2 separate regions of the Homo sapiens genome follow, and region 2 is linked to region 1. A link means that fine-mapping ties the variant in region 1 to the expression of a gene that starts in the linked region. Tissue or cell type: memory regulatory T cells. Region 1 holds a variant in brackets; the other region holds the start of a gene. All regions are shown on one strand. Distances are from middle to middle.

Evidence for each region. PIP is the estimated chance that this variant, and not a neighbour inherited with it, causes the effect.
Region 2: it holds the start of PLD2, and the variant in region 1 is fine-mapped to the expression of PLD2 in memory regulatory T cells (Schmiedel 2018, PIP 0.92).

Annotation. Positions count from the first base shown.
Region 1 is chr17:4,947,826-4,955,924 of GRCh38, forward strand. It overlaps PFN1 (profilin 1), which reads right to left and starts at 705. Exons shown (of 3, transcript NM_005022.4): 1 at 438-705. The coding sequence starts at 569. ENO3 (enolase 3) reads left to right here and starts at 3,294. Exons shown (of 12, transcript NM_053013.4): 1 at 3,294-3,357; 2 at 4,003-4,089; 3 at 4,970-5,065; 4 at 5,226-5,284; 5 at 5,447-5,516; 6 at 5,887-6,020; 7 at 7,250-7,472; 8 at 7,582-7,779. The coding sequence starts at 4,005. RefSeq lists silencers at 1-204, 235-304, 575-914, 1,045-1,294, 1,755-2,164 and 1 more and enhancers at 1,495-1,664, 3,826-4,560. The variant TC/T (reference allele first, on the strand shown) is at 4,964.
Region 2 is chr17:4,802,316-4,810,414 of GRCh38, forward strand. It overlaps PLD2 (phospholipase D2), which reads left to right and starts at 4,837. Exons shown (of 25, transcript NM_002663.5): 1 at 4,837-4,910; 2 at 5,457-5,566; 3 at 5,669-5,799; 4 at 5,959-6,101; 5 at 6,785-6,890; 6 at 6,983-7,048; 7 at 7,178-7,236; 8 at 7,376-7,468; 9 at 7,562-7,714. The coding sequence starts at 5,458. C17orf114 (chromosome 17 open reading frame 114) reads right to left here and starts at 13. Exons shown (of 2, transcript NM_001395223.2): 1 at 1-13. The coding sequence starts at 4. RefSeq lists a silencer at 4,388-5,177 and an enhancer at 5,573-6,772.

The DNA of each region.
Region 1 (8,099 bases):
CTTCCGCACCAGGAGAAACAATGGTAGAGGGACGCGGGCTGGCAGCCGGACGGGGAGCTGGGGGTCCAAGGATCCCCGGGTCCCCTCTCAATCCCAATCCCCAGTAAAAACTGAGGCGCGTCCCCGCCCCGCCCTGGGAGAGGCGGAAGTGGGCCGCCGCACCGGGCGCCGCGCCCCTCCCCGCCCTGTGCCCCGGATGTAACGCCCCGTCGCGGAAAGCGGGGTAGCGGGCGGGATGGGCGCCGCCGCCTGGGGCATAGGACCTACGGGCAACTGAGGGACCCACTCACGTGCAGCCGCCATTCGCGCCGCTTCCAGGGCAAGCACCCAGTCAGGGCCTCTCGCTGCGCGCCCTAGACCGCGCCCGCCCCCACCCAAGTCCCTCCCTCAGGGTCCAAACCGGAGCAGTGCCCCGGACCGCGCAGGCCTCGCAGTACCGTGATGTTGACGAACGTTTTCCCGGGGACGGCGGCCCAGACGGAGGGCGAGTCCTTGTAGCCCACGATGGCCGCGTCCTGACAGGTCCCGTCCGCCATGAGGTTGTCGATGTAGGCGTTCCACCCGGCCATGGCGCTGCTACTGGGGCTGCTCTCGGCGCTGCTGCTGGGGCCGCGGACTGGGCTCGAGCTGCCTCGGCTGGCGGGCGGGGGGAGGCGGAGAGCTCGGGGCACGCGCTGCCGTCCGGACCGCGGCTCCGCTCGCTGTGCAGCAGCCCTCGCACCGCCACTTCCTGCTCCTCCCCCCCCCCGCCCCGCTAGATTTTTATTTGCAAAGGACGGTAGGGGCGGGGCCTACTCCCCATTCCCTCCCTCCCCCACTCGCCAGCCCAGACACCGAACTTTGCAAATGCAATTTTAAAAATCCCTCCCCCTATTGCAAAATTTGCAGAGTTCGATGGAAAGCAATGCAGAAGGATGGGGGGTGGCGGGAGAGAGGTGAAGGGTAGGGTTTGCTCCAATTTGCACTGAATATAAACCAGACTTTGGTATCGGGGCAGGGAGTGAGCCAGAAGAAGGAAGGAAGGAGAAAGCAGGAGGAATTAGCAAGCTGCAAATTTAGCAAATTAAGGAGAGTTCGGGGAGCCCAGGGTTAAACGGGATGACTCCTCCTTCCCCCACCTCCGCCGAAGGGAAGGACCGGCGGGCGGCGGCGCGTGTGCCCGCGCCTGCGCCTGCGCCGGGGCCGGGAGTGCATGGGGCGGTCGGGGCCGGAGCCGGCTGCACGGGAGCGCGCCCGGCCCGACCCGTGTGGACCCTGCGGGAAAGGAAGGCGGGCTGGGGACGTGTCTCCCGCCTGGCGGAAGGGGCGGGGGCGAAGCCGTGCGCGCTGCCGCCTCACCACCCTTGATTTTACTTATTCAAGTAATAAGAAAGCAAAGAAGAGTTTGGCCAAATCCTCTAGTCGCTCTCATAGCTGAAGGCACCCACCGGGGCCACTTCTGTCCCCAGCGTCTTCTCGGGTCGTGCAGGTTGGGTTCACCAGGGCCCATTCTCAGTCTAGAGGATTGTCCCTTCTCTGGATCGGCTCTAGCCCAGGGCCTCACCCCACATCCCAGCCCCGCCCGCCCCAGGCAGGCAATGTCTGGATCACCGGCCGTGCCCCTTGGCCTGTGTCTGCAGAGGTCACAGAGCGCGGACACCCGCGGGGCTTAACAGGCGGGGCTATTTTTCGAGGCGGAAGAATACTCAAGTTGCAAGAGTGGCAACTTTTTCAAGAAGGGGAAAGTCCCACTTCGGGCCCTTTGGGTTTCTTCGCAGTCAGATGTGCGCTCACAGCCACCTGGGGAGGGCGGGACGGGCGGGACGGCCGTGCGGCGGCCGCGGTGAAACCGCCTCCTCCGACCCGCCGCCGAGGGCTGGGCGGCTTCCGGAGCCTGGGCTAGGGGCAAGGGGTCACCGAGCGCGGCCCGGGCGGAAAGGGGGTTGGTTTTCTCTCTCCTCCCGAGCGCGGCGCGCATCCCTGGCGTCCACGCCGAATCCCACAGTCCCCGACGCCCCTCGAGTCCGTGTTCCTCGACAGCCGCGCGGCTGAGTCACTGGCGGGCTCGGGCGGGGCCGCACCCGGGCACGTGGCGGCGCTCCCCGCCCGCCATCTCCTGACCCCTGGCCCACCGCACCCCTACCCCAGGGTGGAAAAATCCCGGGAGGAGCGGCCTGAGATGAGGGGGCGGGGCGAGAGGGGAGACTGGACGGGTGGCGGGGCAGGTGGCCTGGGGTGGGGGCTGGGAGGCCGCGCGGGCCGGCGGGGCGGGGAGCAGGGGTGGGGAGAGGGCGGCGGGGGTGAGTCACCGGGCGCGCGCTGCCCCGGCGCCGACGGGAAGGGCCTCCGAGTCGGGCCGAGGCGCCGTGTGTCCCCCGCCGGTCGGCTGGTATGGCTGCAGAGGAGCTCGGGGCAGACCCCGCACTGGCCCCAGAGCCGGCAAAGTGGAGATCTCTACCGAGGGCAGAGACCTACCTCCCCGCAGTGCTACAAGTGGGGCGCCGGAAGAGCCCCAGGCGTGCAGAAGCTCACAAAAGGCCACCCGTCCTCGGTCCATTCATTTTTGTTCACTGTTGATTCAGCCCCATTCATTGATGGGCTGGGGCCGTGCGCTGAGCGCCCACAGTCGATGGGGAAAGGGGCTCTGACCGACAGTCCCCACGCCGGGCGACAAGTGCTGTCCCAGCGTTATCAGTCGGGCGCCTTGCCAGCCGAAAGGGCCTGTCTAAATTCGTTTCCTGTCCCCTAACTCATCCCGGCGCTGGCTGGCCTGGAGAGGGTAGGATGGGGCGGCGCCGAGAATGGCCGTTATGAGGACCCTAAGAGGTGAGACCCTCTCGCCTTCTGGGGTGGGGGGTCCCGTCCTTTCCCCCACTGAGGACAGAGGCCCGCCCAGCGATCTGAGCATGTGTGGACGTCAATCTTGCAGCCCCTCTTCCAGGCCCCCTCCCCAGCCTTGCAGGGCTCAGGTTACCCCTGGCCTTTCCTAAAGGTCACTCATTCCTCTTGACGTTTGCAAAAGGGGAATGTAATCCTGGGGTGGGGGGAGACCCCTCATCTGTAGCCCCTCCCTTGCTCCTCCCAAAGGGTGGAATTAGAACAGGGACTGTTATTGGGAGACAGAAAGTGGGGGATAGTAGTTGACCTTTGGTAAGGGGGCAGGTGCCCAGGGCCAGAGGCTTCTGCTTCAGGCTGTAGTGGGCACTTGGCTGCCAGCCCAGTGTGAAGGGGGGAGGATGGAGAGAAAGAGAGGCGGGGCTGGCTGGGGACCGAGTGGCTCAGGGATAAATGCGCAGCCTGAGAGGGGGTGAGCTGACACTGTCCCAGCTGCCACCTAGACTCGGAGCTCCATCCAAACCTCCAGCGAAGACATCCCAGGTCGGGTGAATCTTCCAGCCCTGGGGGTGGAGGTAGTAAAGGGTGAGCATGGTATTGGCTTGGAGGAAGTGGGGGACATTTCTGCTTTTTTTCCTCCTGGGACTGGAGATGCTTGAAAAAGCTGGGGGAAGGGGCGGCTGGAGCAAGCAGATGGGACAAACTCTGGGAACACCGAAGGATCTAGGGAAAGGAGGCTGTGAGGAGGGCAGCAGGGATGGATAGAAAAGGGCAGCTAGAGCTGGAACCTGATAGGGAATTGGGGGCCCAAGGAGATTTCGGAGCAGGAAAATGAGAACCAGAAAGGATTTGAAGGCCACCAGCCATGGAGAACAGACTGCTTGACCAGAGGGGTGGAAGGAGAAGGCCTAAGTGGAGGCTTGGGGGAGGTGGGGGCTTGGTGAGCGGTGGCATCCCAGGAGCTATAGATAAGAGGCCCCTGGATTCTTAGGATGGGAGGGTGGAATAAGAGCTGTTCTGAGTGGGGGAGGGGGCTGCGCCTGCCTCTTTGGTCTGTGACCTTTTTGTAGGGTATTTTTAGCTCCAGCACCTGCCTTCTTGGAGTGGGGAAGAATCTTAAAGGGCAAGGGATTTCTGGTTCCTTAAGAGATCAACTGTCTACACTCACTCACACCTCCTGTCCTGCAGCCATGGCCATGCAGAAAATCTTTGCCCGGGAAATCTTGGACTCCAGGGGCAACCCCACGGTGGAGGTGGACCTGCACACGGCCAAGGGTAACACAAGGCCCATTGGATAGGCTCGCCTCCGAAGACCCCAACCCTTTGGCCTTTGCCCCCCAGTTCTGTGCCATATCCTCTCCTTTCTCTCGGGTTCCCTTTCCCAGACTTCTTCCCAAGCCCCCTTCTTCCAACGTGGAACCAGAGCTGGAAGCTAGGAGAAGCAGGAGTCTCTCTCTGCACTGCCTCCTGTCCCTGAGCTCAGAGAGGACACCTCAGCCCTTTGAGAGGTAGAGAGACTCCCTGTGAGGTCCTTTTTTTTGTTTTGTTTTGTTTTGAGATGGAGTCTCGCTCTGTGGCCCGGGCTGGAGTGCAGTGGTGCAATCTCAGCTCACTGCAACCTCTGCCTCCCGGGTTTAAGTGATTCTTGTGCCTCAGCCTCCCAAGTAGCTGGGATTACAGGCCTGTGCCATCACGCCCAGCTAATTTTTTTTTTTTTTTTTTGAGATGGAGTCTCACTCTGTCGCCCAGGCTGGAGTGCAGTGGCGCGATCTAGGCTCACTGCAAGCTCCGCCTCCCGGGTTCACGCCATTCTCCTGCCTCAGCCTCCCGAGTAGCTGGGACTACAGCTAATTTTTTGTATTTTTAGTAGAGATGGGGTTTCACGGTGTCAGCCAGGATTGTCTCGATCTCCTGATCTCGTGATCCGCCCGCCTTGGCCTCCCAAAGTGCTGGGATTACAGGCGTGAGCCACCGCGCCCGGCCTCAGCTAATTTTTGTATTTTTAGCAGAGACGGTTTCGCCATGTTAGCCAGGCTGGTCTTGAACTCCTGATCTCAAGTGATCCACCTGCCTAGGCCTCTCAAAGTGCTGGGATTACAGGCATGGGCCACCGCGCCCAGCCATCCCTGTGATCTTCCAATTCCTCCTG[TC/T]CCAGGCCGATTCCGAGCAGCTGTGCCCAGTGGGGCTTCCACGGGTATCTATGAGGCTCTGGAACTAAGAGACGGAGACAAAGGCCGCTACCTGGGGAAAGGTGAGGAGACACCAGCGCAGAAGGAGCCTGTGTGGGCGGCTTTAGGACATGGGTGCACAATGGGTAGAGGACTGGAACCCCCAAGGCTCTTGAGGAGCTGGGGTCCACAGAAAGGGGCCCAGTTGATTGAGCTCCAAAACTCATCCTCTGGCCTGTCTAGGAGTCCTGAAGGCTGTGGAGAACATCAACAATACTCTGGGCCCTGCTCTGCTGCAAAAGGCAAGTGGGGAAGCCCGCTCGCTGCAGCCTCCTCCCCATGCCCCTGCTCCCTCAGCCCAGACAGGCCTCTCCCGAAACATTTTCCCTTATCCTTCCCCTGCATGTGCCCTGACTTCTGAGAAATCTGACCTCTGCTCTCCCTTCTCAAACTCACCCTTCCAGAAACTAAGCGTTGTGGATCAAGAAAAAGTTGACAAATTTATGATTGAGCTAGATGGGACCGAGAATAAGTGTGAGTGAAGGGCTAGCGGTGGGGAAGGGATGAGGTGTGGGAGAGATGGCGAGAGGCCATGGGGTGAGGCCTGATGGGTTATTTCTGGGTCCCCCATTTTGGGTCACACCGCAGCTGGATGGATTTGTGTTCATTCCACAGGCATTTCCTATGCCTGCCTTCTGCCAGGCCTGGGCCGGGCTGTGGACACAGACATGCAGCTGACACATTCCCCCGGGGTGGGGGTTCCCAGGGCTACTCAGGCTGTTGGGGAGAGATCTGTTAACCAATTCTTCATGCTCAGTGGTTTGGAGCTCTGGCGTCTTCCTGGAGTAGCCACCCCAAACCCTGCAGAAGCTCTCATCCTTTCTTCCCGCTTGCCTCCTTCCAGCCAAGTTTGGGGCCAATGCCATCCTGGGCGTGTCCTTGGCCGTGTGTAAGGCGGGAGCAGCTGAGAAGGGGGTCCCCCTGTACCGCCACATCGCAGATCTCGCTGGGAACCCTGACCTCATACTCCCAGTGCCAGTGAGTGCAGCTACCCGCCCTTCCCAGATCTCGCCTGGACAGAGCCAACCCCGCCCAGCCAGGGTTGGCCCCCCTGGAAAATCCACCTTTCAGACCAGCTCCTAAGAAGCAGTTTCCTGAAATTGAATCTCTCCTGCTGTGGTCCCACCCCTCCCTCTCTTCCACAATCCAAACCTTCCCTGAAGGCTCTATGTGCTTCCTTCCCTGCCATATAACCCAGTTCCTTCCCATTCCAATCCTAGGCTCGATAACTCCAGCCTCGTTCCAACCCCACACCCTACACCCAAATCATATTGAGAGTTTCTTTGAGGCAAAGATCTTGGCATTTCTTTGTATCTTCTTGAGTCCTTCTTAAACCAGTGCCTTCTTGATGAATGGAAACTCTTTGAATTTAATCTCAATAATAATGTTACCATTTCTTGTTACTTACTAGGAGGATTGCATAAGAGCATGGTCTCTAGAGATAGATTGCTGGGTTTGAATCCTGGCTCTGCCTGTTATTAGTTGTATGATTTTAGGCAAGTTCTTTAACTGCTCTGTCTCAGTTTCCCCATCTGTAAAATGGGGGGTAATAACGATACCAATGAATAGAGGTGTTTTGAGAATGAAATGGGCTAATACATGTAAAGTACTTAGTGCGTGGCATGTAGTAAGTGCTATATAAAAGTGTTAGCTATTATATACTAGGCACATGCTAAGAACTTTACATTCAATTTCTCTAATTTTCAGCAAAAGATCCTACAGGGAAGTAGGTGCTATCCCCATTTTACAGAAATGAGGAAAGAGAGGCTGGGCACAGTGGCTCACGCCTGTAATCCCAGCACTTCGGGAGGCCGAGGCGGGCAGATCACAAGGTCAGGAGTTCGAGACCAGCCTGACCAACATGGTGAAACCCCGTCTCTACTAAAAATACAAAAATTAGCCAGGCATGGTGGCACCCACCTATAGTCCCAGCTACTAGGGAGGCTAAGGCAGGAGAATCACTTGAACCCGGGAGGCGGAGGTTGCGCCATTGCACTCCAGCCTGGTGACAAAGTGAGACTCCGTCTCAAAAAAAAAAAAAAAAAAAGAAAGAAATGAGGAAAGAGGCTCTTGAGCAAAACTACTCATCCTAGACCACTGAGCTAGTAAGTAGGGAAGCCAGGTTTCCACCCCAACACCCCCCGCCCCTGTCCCTTCTTGAGCTCTCATGCCCCGGCCCAGGTCCAGACACCCTCTCCCCATCTCAGGCCTTCAATGTGATCAACGGGGGCTCCCATGCTGGAAACAAGCTGGCCATGCAGGAGTTCATGATTCTGCCTGTGGGAGCCAGCTCCTTCAAGGAAGCCATGCGCATTGGCGCCGAGGTCTACCACCACCTCAAGGGGGTCATCAAGGCCAAGTATGGGAAGGATGCCACCAATGTGGGTGATGAAGGTGGCTTCGCACCCAACATCCTGGAGAACAATGAGGGTCAGTGCTGAGCACCCTGGGGGGCAGACCCCCTGGATCTCCACATGGGCAGGGGAGGCTGCAGACAAGGGGCACTGGAGTCTCAGGTCCTTTCTTGGTCCTCCCCCAGCCCTGGAGCTGCTGAAGACGGCCATCCAGGCGGCTGGTTACCCAGACAAGGTGGTGATCGGCATGGATGTGGCAGCATCTGAGTTCTATCGCAATGGGAAGTACGATCTTGACTTCAAGTCGCCTGATGATCCCGCACGGCACATCACTGGGGAGAAGCTCGGAGAGCTGTATAAGAGCTTTATCAAGAACTATCCTGGTGAGGCGTTCGGGTGTCCCAGTGTTCCTGCCCGAATCCCGTGCAGCTGCCTAATATACTGATTTCAGTGACCTGCTTTGCCATCGACTTGGATCCTTCCAATTCTTAGCCCCATTAAAATCCCCATTTAAGCTCTTCTGCCCTGTCACCCCTCCATGAGGCTCCTTCTGACCTCTAGCCGTGTCTCTGCCCTGTCTCTGCCTTGTCTCTGCCCTGTCTCTGCTCTGTCTCTGCCCTGTCTCTGCCCTGTCTCTGCCCTGTCTCTGCTCTGTCTCTGCCCTGTCTCTGCCCTGTCTCTGCTCTGTCTCTGCCCTGTCTCT
Region 2 (8,099 bases), 150 kb before region 1:
CCATCTCAACAGTGGAGGCGATCAGAGCTGGGAATGGCCAGGAGGGCCCCCGGGAGAGGGGTGTGGTTTCCAAGCCCCCCCACCATGGGCAAAACTACCACTTAGCCTCAGACCGCCTGGTGATTACAGGCGCCAGGGATGGAAAGGGGAGAGGAGGGAGGAAGAAAGGGGTGGGGGTACACTCCCATTCAGACACCTATTTTTATGCCCCATTAATTTGGGGGTCCTTTCTGATCCCCATGGAGAAGCAGGAGGTGGTTGGGAGAGGTGGCACGGCAGGGACAGACGCAGAGGTGCTGTGACAGACAGATGCAGTCACATTTCACTATGGCAATGCCCGACAACTTGGCGCCAGGCTGGACACCGCTGGGGATTCCTTTGTATTTTAGAATGAGAATTGAAGTGCCCAAGATGTAAACTTTCAAAGAATACTCTATTTTTTTAGAATAAGAAACTTTATTATTCAGGGAAATGTTAGATTCTCATTAAATGGTCTGATAGTTCCTGTCCCCTGTTATGAAGATGATTGTAATTGATTAATTATGCTGTGTCAGGTAAATGCTAGAGACTTTTACATGTTGTCTCATTTCACTTAATCACGTCAAAGATCTTTTTTTTGGGGGACAGAGTCTCACTCTCTCGCCCAGGGTGGAGTGCAGTGGCGCAATCTCGGCTCACTGCAACTCTGCCTCCTGGGTTGAAGTGATTTTCCTGCCTCAGCCTCCCAAGTAGCTGGGACTACAGGCGTACACCACCATGCCCAGCTAATTTTTTTGTATTTTTAGTAGAGACGGGGTTTCACCATGTTAGCCAGGCTAGTCTCGAACTCCTGACCTCAGGCAATCCACCCGCCTTGTCCTCCCAAAGTGCTGGGATTACAGGTGTGAGCCACCGCACCCGGCCTCAAAGATCTTTTGAGGTAAGTCCCTCACTGGTTAGGTGAGTCTATCCTGGTTTTACAGATGTGAAAAAGCAGGCACTGAGAGGTAAGGTAATTTGCCCAAGGTCACGCAGGCAGTTATTAGCCGAGTAGGAACCATGCCCAGCTCACAACCCTCACCTTGAGTCAGTCTGACCCCAAAAATCTATTGTTTTTTTTAATTTTTTTTTTTTTTTTTTTTTTTTTTGAGACAGAGTCTCGCTCTGTCACTCAGGCTGGAATGCAGTGGCGCGGTCTTGGCTCACTGCAAACTCTGCCTCCCGGGTTCACGCCATTCTCCTGCCTCAGCCTCCTGAGTAGCTGGGACTATAGGCGCCCACCACCACACCCGGCTAATTTTTTTTGTATTTTTAGTAGAGATGGGGTTTCACCGTGTTAGCCAGGATGGTCTCGATCTCCTGAGCTCGTGATCCGGCCACCTCGGCCTCCCAAAGTGCTGGGATTACAGGCATGAGACACAGCACCCGGCCTTTTTTTAATTTTTGAGATGGAGTCTTGCTCTGTTGTCCAGGCTGGATTACAGTGGTGCAATCTCGTCTCACTGCAACCTCCGTCTCCAGGGCTCAAGCGAGTCTCCTGTCCCAGCCTCCCAAGTAGCTGGGATTACAGGCACCCGCCACCATCCCCAGCCACATTTTGTATTTTTAGTAGAGATGGGCTTTCACCACGTTGGCCAGGCTGTTCTCCAACTCCTGACCTCAAGTGATCTGCCTGCCTCAGCCTCCCAAAGTGCTGGGATTACAGGCATCAGCCACCACACCCAGCCCAGAATCTACTCTTTTGACCAGTACACTGAGCTTCTGAAGCATGTCCCCAAGCAAGCATCGATGCCCTCAGACAGTTTGGGGTGGCCAGAGCCAAGGCTGGGAGCATCTAGTCAAGAGCATCCTAGCCAAGGACTCTAAGTGCTCTTAAGTAAAGCTGTGGAAGTGCTGTGTTTTTTTTCTTTTTTCTTTTTTTTTTTTTTGAGATGGAGTCTCGCTCTGTTGCCCAGGCTGGAGTGCAGTGGCACGATCTCAGCTCACTGCAACCTCCGCCTCCCGGGTTCACGCCATTCTCCTGCCTCAGCCTCCCAAGTAGCTGGGACTACAGGTGCCCGCCACCACGCCTGGCTAATTTTTTGTATTTTTAATAGAGACAGGGTTTCCCTGTGTTAGCCAGGATGGTCTCGATATCGTGACCTCGTGATCTGCCCTCCTCAGCCTCGCAAAGTGCTGGGATTCCAAGCGTGAGCCACTGCGCCCAGCCACAAGTGCTGTTTCATCATTCCCTGAGGGTGCCACAACGTGGGGAGTGTTAGGTTGCTGATTACAGGGTACTGCCTGAGTTACACAGAAATGTTTCTTTCTTTTTTTTTTTTTTTTGAGACAGTCTCACTCTGTCACCAGGCCGGAGTGTAGTGGCACTGTCCCGGCTCACTGCAATTTCTGACTCCCTGGTTCAAATGATTCTCCTGCCTCAGCCTCCCGAGTAGTACGCATCACCACACTCAGCTAATTTTTTGTATTTTTAGTAGAGACGGGGTTCACCATGTTAGCCAAGATGGTCTCGATCTCCTGACCTCGTGATCTGCCCGCCTCGGCCTCCCAAAGTGCTGGGATTACAGGTGTGAGCCACCGCGCCCCGCCTTCTTTTTCTTTCAATGAACTTTATTGAAGCAAAAATGCACATACAATGTAATGCACACATCTTAACGTACAGTTCCATGAGTATTACCAAGTGTATGCTCCTATGCAATCACCACTCCTATCAAAATACAGGGCATTCTTATCATCCTGGAATGTTCCCTCACGTGTCCCTTTACAGGCAATCTTTTCCCTACACCCTGCCACAAGCAACTACTGATCTGATTTCCATCACTATAGGTTGTTTTTGCCTGTTTTATAAGTTTAAGACCGGGTGCGGTGGCTCACGCCTGTAATCCCAGCACTTTAGGCCAAGGAGGGCGGATCATTTGAGGTCAGGAGTTCGACGCCAGCCTGACCAACATGGAGGAACCCCGTCTCTACTAAAAATACAAAAAATTAGCTAGGCGTGGTGGCAGGTGCCTGTAATCCCAGCTACTCAGGAGGCTGAGGCAGGAGAGAACCCGGGAGGCGGAGGTTGCAGTGAGCCGAGATCGCGCCATTGCACTCCAGCCTGGGCAATAACAGCGAAACTCTGTCTCAAAAAAAAAAATTAGCAAAAGGCCGGGAACGGTGGCTCACGCCTGTAATCCCAGCACTTTGGGAGGCTGAGGAGGGCGGATCACTTGAGGTCTGGAGTTTGAGACCAGCCCGGCCAACATGGTGAAACCCCGTCTCTACTAAAAATACAAAAATTAGCCGGAAATCCCTTGAACCTGGAAGGGGGAGGTTGCAGTGAGCCGAGATCACGCCACTGCAGTCCAGCATGGGCAACAAGAGCGAGACTCTGGCCGGGCGCGGTGGCTCACGCCTGTAATCCCAGTACTTTGGAAGGCCGAGGAGGGCGGATCACAAGGTCAAGAGATCGAGACCATCCTGGATAACACGGTGAGACCCCGTTTCTACTAAAAATACAAAAAAAATTAGCTGGGCGTGGTGGCGGACGCCTGTAGTCCCAGCTACTCAGGAGGCTGAGGCAGGAGAATGGCGTGAACCTGGGAGGCGGAGCTTGCAGTGAGCCGAGATCGCGCCACTGCACTCCAGCCTGGGCAACACAGCAAGACTCCATCTCAAAAAAAGAAAAAAAAAGAGCGAGACTCCGTCTCATAAAAATAAAAATAAAAATAAATAAAAAATAGCAAAAGACTGAATAGGCACTTTATAAAAGAAGACATACAAATGGCCAATCAGCACATGAAACATGGTCAATATCATTGATCTCCAGACAAATGCAAATCAAATTGCAATGATGTGCCCACAACACCCATTAAATGGCCAACGCTAAAGACTGACAATATCCAACGTTGGCCATGCCATGGAATAACTGGAACCACCATACACTGATTTTGGAAATCTAGAATGGAAAAACCATTTAGAAAAAAATCGTTTGGCAGTTTCTTATAAGTTAAACACACACTGATATGATCGAACAACTCCACTCCCTAGTTACCCAAGATAAAGGAAAACTATCCACGCAAACTTACAGGAATGTTTACAGGAGCTAAAACAATGGGCAAAACTAGAAACCCACATGTATATCAAAAGAGAAAAATAAATCTGCTTTTTAAAAAAGATTGAAATATCTTGTATTTTAATACCCGAAAAAATTTTATTTCCCCCTAGACTGCCAATTCCAGCTGAGCAGGCTCTCTAACCATCTTATTTACTACCATACTCTCAATTTCTGGCACGGAGTAAGCGCGCAATAAATGTTTGGTGAATGAATGAAAGAATGCCCGCTTTCATACACTAATGGGTTTGTAGCCACCACCCCTCAGGCCTTTTACGCCCTCATTCCTTCCAGGTACAAACGCTATCTGGGCTAGGCCAAATGTGGCTCGCAGCGGGTCCGGGAGCGGGGCACCTACCGGCAGCTCCCGCAGCGGAGGCGCGTCCCCCGGGCGCCGAGGCAGCGCCCGCGGCTGGAGGGGCCCGGGGCGGGCGCCGAGCCCGAGGGATGCGCGCAGCGCGGGGTGCCCCGGGAGGCAGCGGCCGGGCACGCTGGGACCGACGGCGCGGGACGCCCCGACGCCGGGCAGCACTTACCCGCCGCACCGAGAGAGCTACGCGGCCCCGCGGCCCTGCAGGGCACAGGGCGGCCCCCTGCCCGGGGCTCTCGGTGGCGCACTGGGCGGCGGGGCGGGCCGAGGGCAGCGGGGGCGGGACAGGACAGACGAGAATCCCGCGGAGGTGAGGCCGGGGGCCGCCCCGCCCCCGAGGGCAGGCCCTGAGCCCCGGCCCCGCCTCGGCCGGCCCCGCCTCGGCCGGGGCGTGGGCTCCGGCTGCAGCTCCGGTCTGCTCTCTTGGCTCCGGAACCCCCGCGGGCGCTGGCTCCGTCTGCCAGGGTGAGGGGGCCGGGAAGGGGCGCGCGGGGGTCCCGGGTCTCGGAAATCGGGCGGGGACGGAACGGGCTCGGGCTGCGGGGCCTCCAGACTCAGTCGCACGCTCAGATTTCGGGATTTCTACCCCCGGCTGGGATCGCGTAACTTCCTCATTCCCGCCTGGACCCCTGCCCCCGGCCCGCCTGGCCTGGCGTGAGCCCCGTAGCCGCGCGCTCTCCGGACCACCCAGGGCCGCTTCCCCGCGCAGCTGCTGCGCCGCCCCAGGTCGGAGCCTTCCGGGCCTGGCTGGGTGTTCCCCGGGGCTCTGGTTACGGGACGGGGCGGGGGGCGGGGGGCGGGACTGGGATTGTGGATGAAGGACTAAGGTAGGGGATGGGGGCTCGAAGGGGTCGGTGGGGCGTTGCAAACTGGTCAGGCGTCATCCGCGGGCGGTCAGGAGGCCGTGGGGGAAGAGGAGGATCTGGAAGAGATGGAGGACCTGCGGGAGTTAGGATGGGGGGCGGGTTCTGCAGGACAGCTCGCCTCCCTGAGGCTTCCCAATGTTCCTAGGATGACGGCGACCCCTGAGAGCCTCTTCCCCACTGGGGACGAACTGGACTCCAGCCAGCTCCAGATGGAGTCCGATGAGGTGGACACCCTGAAGGAGGGAGAGGACCCAGGTACACAGGGAAGATGGATGGCCCTCAGGGAGGAGAGGCGTTCGGGAGCCAGGGGGCTGGGGCCTGTTGTGGTCTACACTCCTCGACTTTCTTTCCTCCCAGCCGACCGGATGCACCCGTTTCTGGCCATCTATGAGCTTCAGTCTCTGAAAGTGCACCCCTTGGTGTTCGCACCTGGGGTCCCTGTCACAGCCCAGGTGGTGGGCACCGAAAGATATACCAGCGGATCCAAGGTGGCCAGACTGGCCCCAGGGAGGGGGAAAGGGAGGGCGGCCCGGAATGGATCCAAGGTGGCTGGGCTGGCCCCAGGGAAGGGGCAAAAGGAGGGCTGGCCAGAGTGGGGAGGCGGGGACCCACGCAGGGGACATCCATTCAGTTCCTCATACCCCTAGGTGGGAACCTGCACTCTGTATTCTGTCCGCTTGACTCACGGCGACTTTTCCTGGACAACCAAGAAGAAATACCGTCATTTTCAGGAGCTGCATCGGGACCTCCTGAGACACAAAGTCTTGATGAGTCTGCTCCCTCTGGCTCGGTGAGGGCGACCGGACTGCTTCCTGTAGAGGGCAGGTGCTCCCCACCCTCCTTTCTGTCTGTCTCACCCCGGGGCCACAACCTTTCCTCCCTGCAACTCTGGCCACTGTGCTGCCTCCCCTGACCCCAGTTACCAGGAAACTTTCCCTGCTCAGCTTTCCCTGTCCATGGTTCTGTGCCAGCATCTCAGCTGGGCGGGATGCCCAAAATGCTCTTGGCAGCCTCACCCTTTTCTAGTCTCCATTCCCAGGGTAGGGGGCCTCCGTTTTGCCAGCCTCTAGGCCTTTTGTTTGTTTTTTGTTTTTGTTTTGTACAAGGTCTCCCTCTGTCACCCAGGCTAGAGTGCAGTGGTATGATCTTGGCTCATGGCAACCTCCTGGGCTCAAGCAGTCCTCCCGTCTCAGCCTCCAGAGTAGCTAGGACCACAGCCACCACACCCAACTAATTTTTGTATATTTTGTAGAGATGGGGTGCTGCTGTGTTGCCCAGGCTGGTCTTAAATTCCTGAGCTCAAGTGATCCACCTGCTGCGGCCTCCCCAAGTGCTGGGATTCCAGGCGTGAGCCACCACGCCTGGCCACCTCCAGGCCTCTTCTTTTCCTCCGAGCCCCATCTCCAGTGTTTTCAGGAACCAGAGCACCCAGCCTCCCAGCTCTTACCTGACCTTCATCCATCCTTTCCACAGATTTGCCGTTGCCTATTCTCCAGCCCGAGATGCAGGCAACAGAGAGATGCCCTCTCTACCCCGGGCAGGTCCTGAGGGCTCCACCAGACATGCAGCCAGCAAACAGGTGGGACCAGATGCCAGGTCCTCCGGGAAGGCATTGGAGGTGCAAATGGCTCGGTCCCATCTGTCTCTCTCTCTCTCTCATCTCCACTTCAGAAATACCTGGAGAATTACCTCAACCGTCTCTTGACCATGTCTTTCTATCGCAACTACCATGCCATGGTAAGGTCCAGGGGCCGATTTTAGATGTGGAGCAGGATTATCAGACCCTCGGGGAGGAGGGCCAGGGGCCCCAGGGTCTGAGGGGCTGAAAGCCAGGTGTCTCCTCCGGGCTTTTGTTTTCCTCTGCAGACAGAGTTCCTGGAAGTCAGTCAGCTGTCCTTTATCCCGGACTTGGGCCGCAAAGGACTGTGAGTGTCTGGCCCCCTTCACCCAGGCATCCGTAGACATCACTCTTAATTTCTCCCTGCCTGAGATTGGGGCAAGCAGTGCAGGGTGGGCTGGGGGTCTGGAGTCCTCATCCCGCCTCTCTTCCTGATTGTCCCACAGGGAGGGGATGATCCGGAAGCGCTCAGGTGGCCACCGTGTTCCTGGCCTCACCTGCTGTGGCCGAGACCAAGTTTGTTATCGCTGGTCCAAGAGGTACGGGCTATGGCCAAGCAGCTGGGCAGTGGGTGGGGGTGAGGAAGAAAATTTTGAGGGCAGAGAGGAACACACGGAGCCCTTCTGCTCTAGGTGGCTGGTGGTGAAGGACTCCTTCCTGCTGTACATGTGCCTCGAGACAGGTGCCATCTCATTTGTTCAGCTCTTTGACCCTGGCTTTGAGGTGCAAGTGGGGAAAAGGAGCACGGAGGCACGGCACGGCGTGCGGATCGATACCTCCCACAGGTGAGGCCTCCCTGGGGTGAGAGACACCAGCTGAGTGGTGAGCCCACCCACGGCCTTGCTGGGAGTTGAGAAAGAGAGACCACAGGAGAGAGGAAGGCTTTTCCACCTCCCTGGATCGGGACATAGTTTTGAACCAGGAACTGGTCTAGCCAGATGCTTGGGACTGCTCTTAGACTGGGCCCAGAGAAAGGGGATTAGTAGAAGCCTGGGAAGGGAACTGCTGACATAAACGAAATTCCATTTGTTCATTTGTTCATTCAACAAACCCGAGTGCCTGGTACAATACTGGTTGCTGATGCAATACTAGGATCCAACTATGAGTAAGGTGGATATGGCCGGGCGCGGTGGCTCACACCTACAATCCCAGCACTTTGGGAGGCCGAGG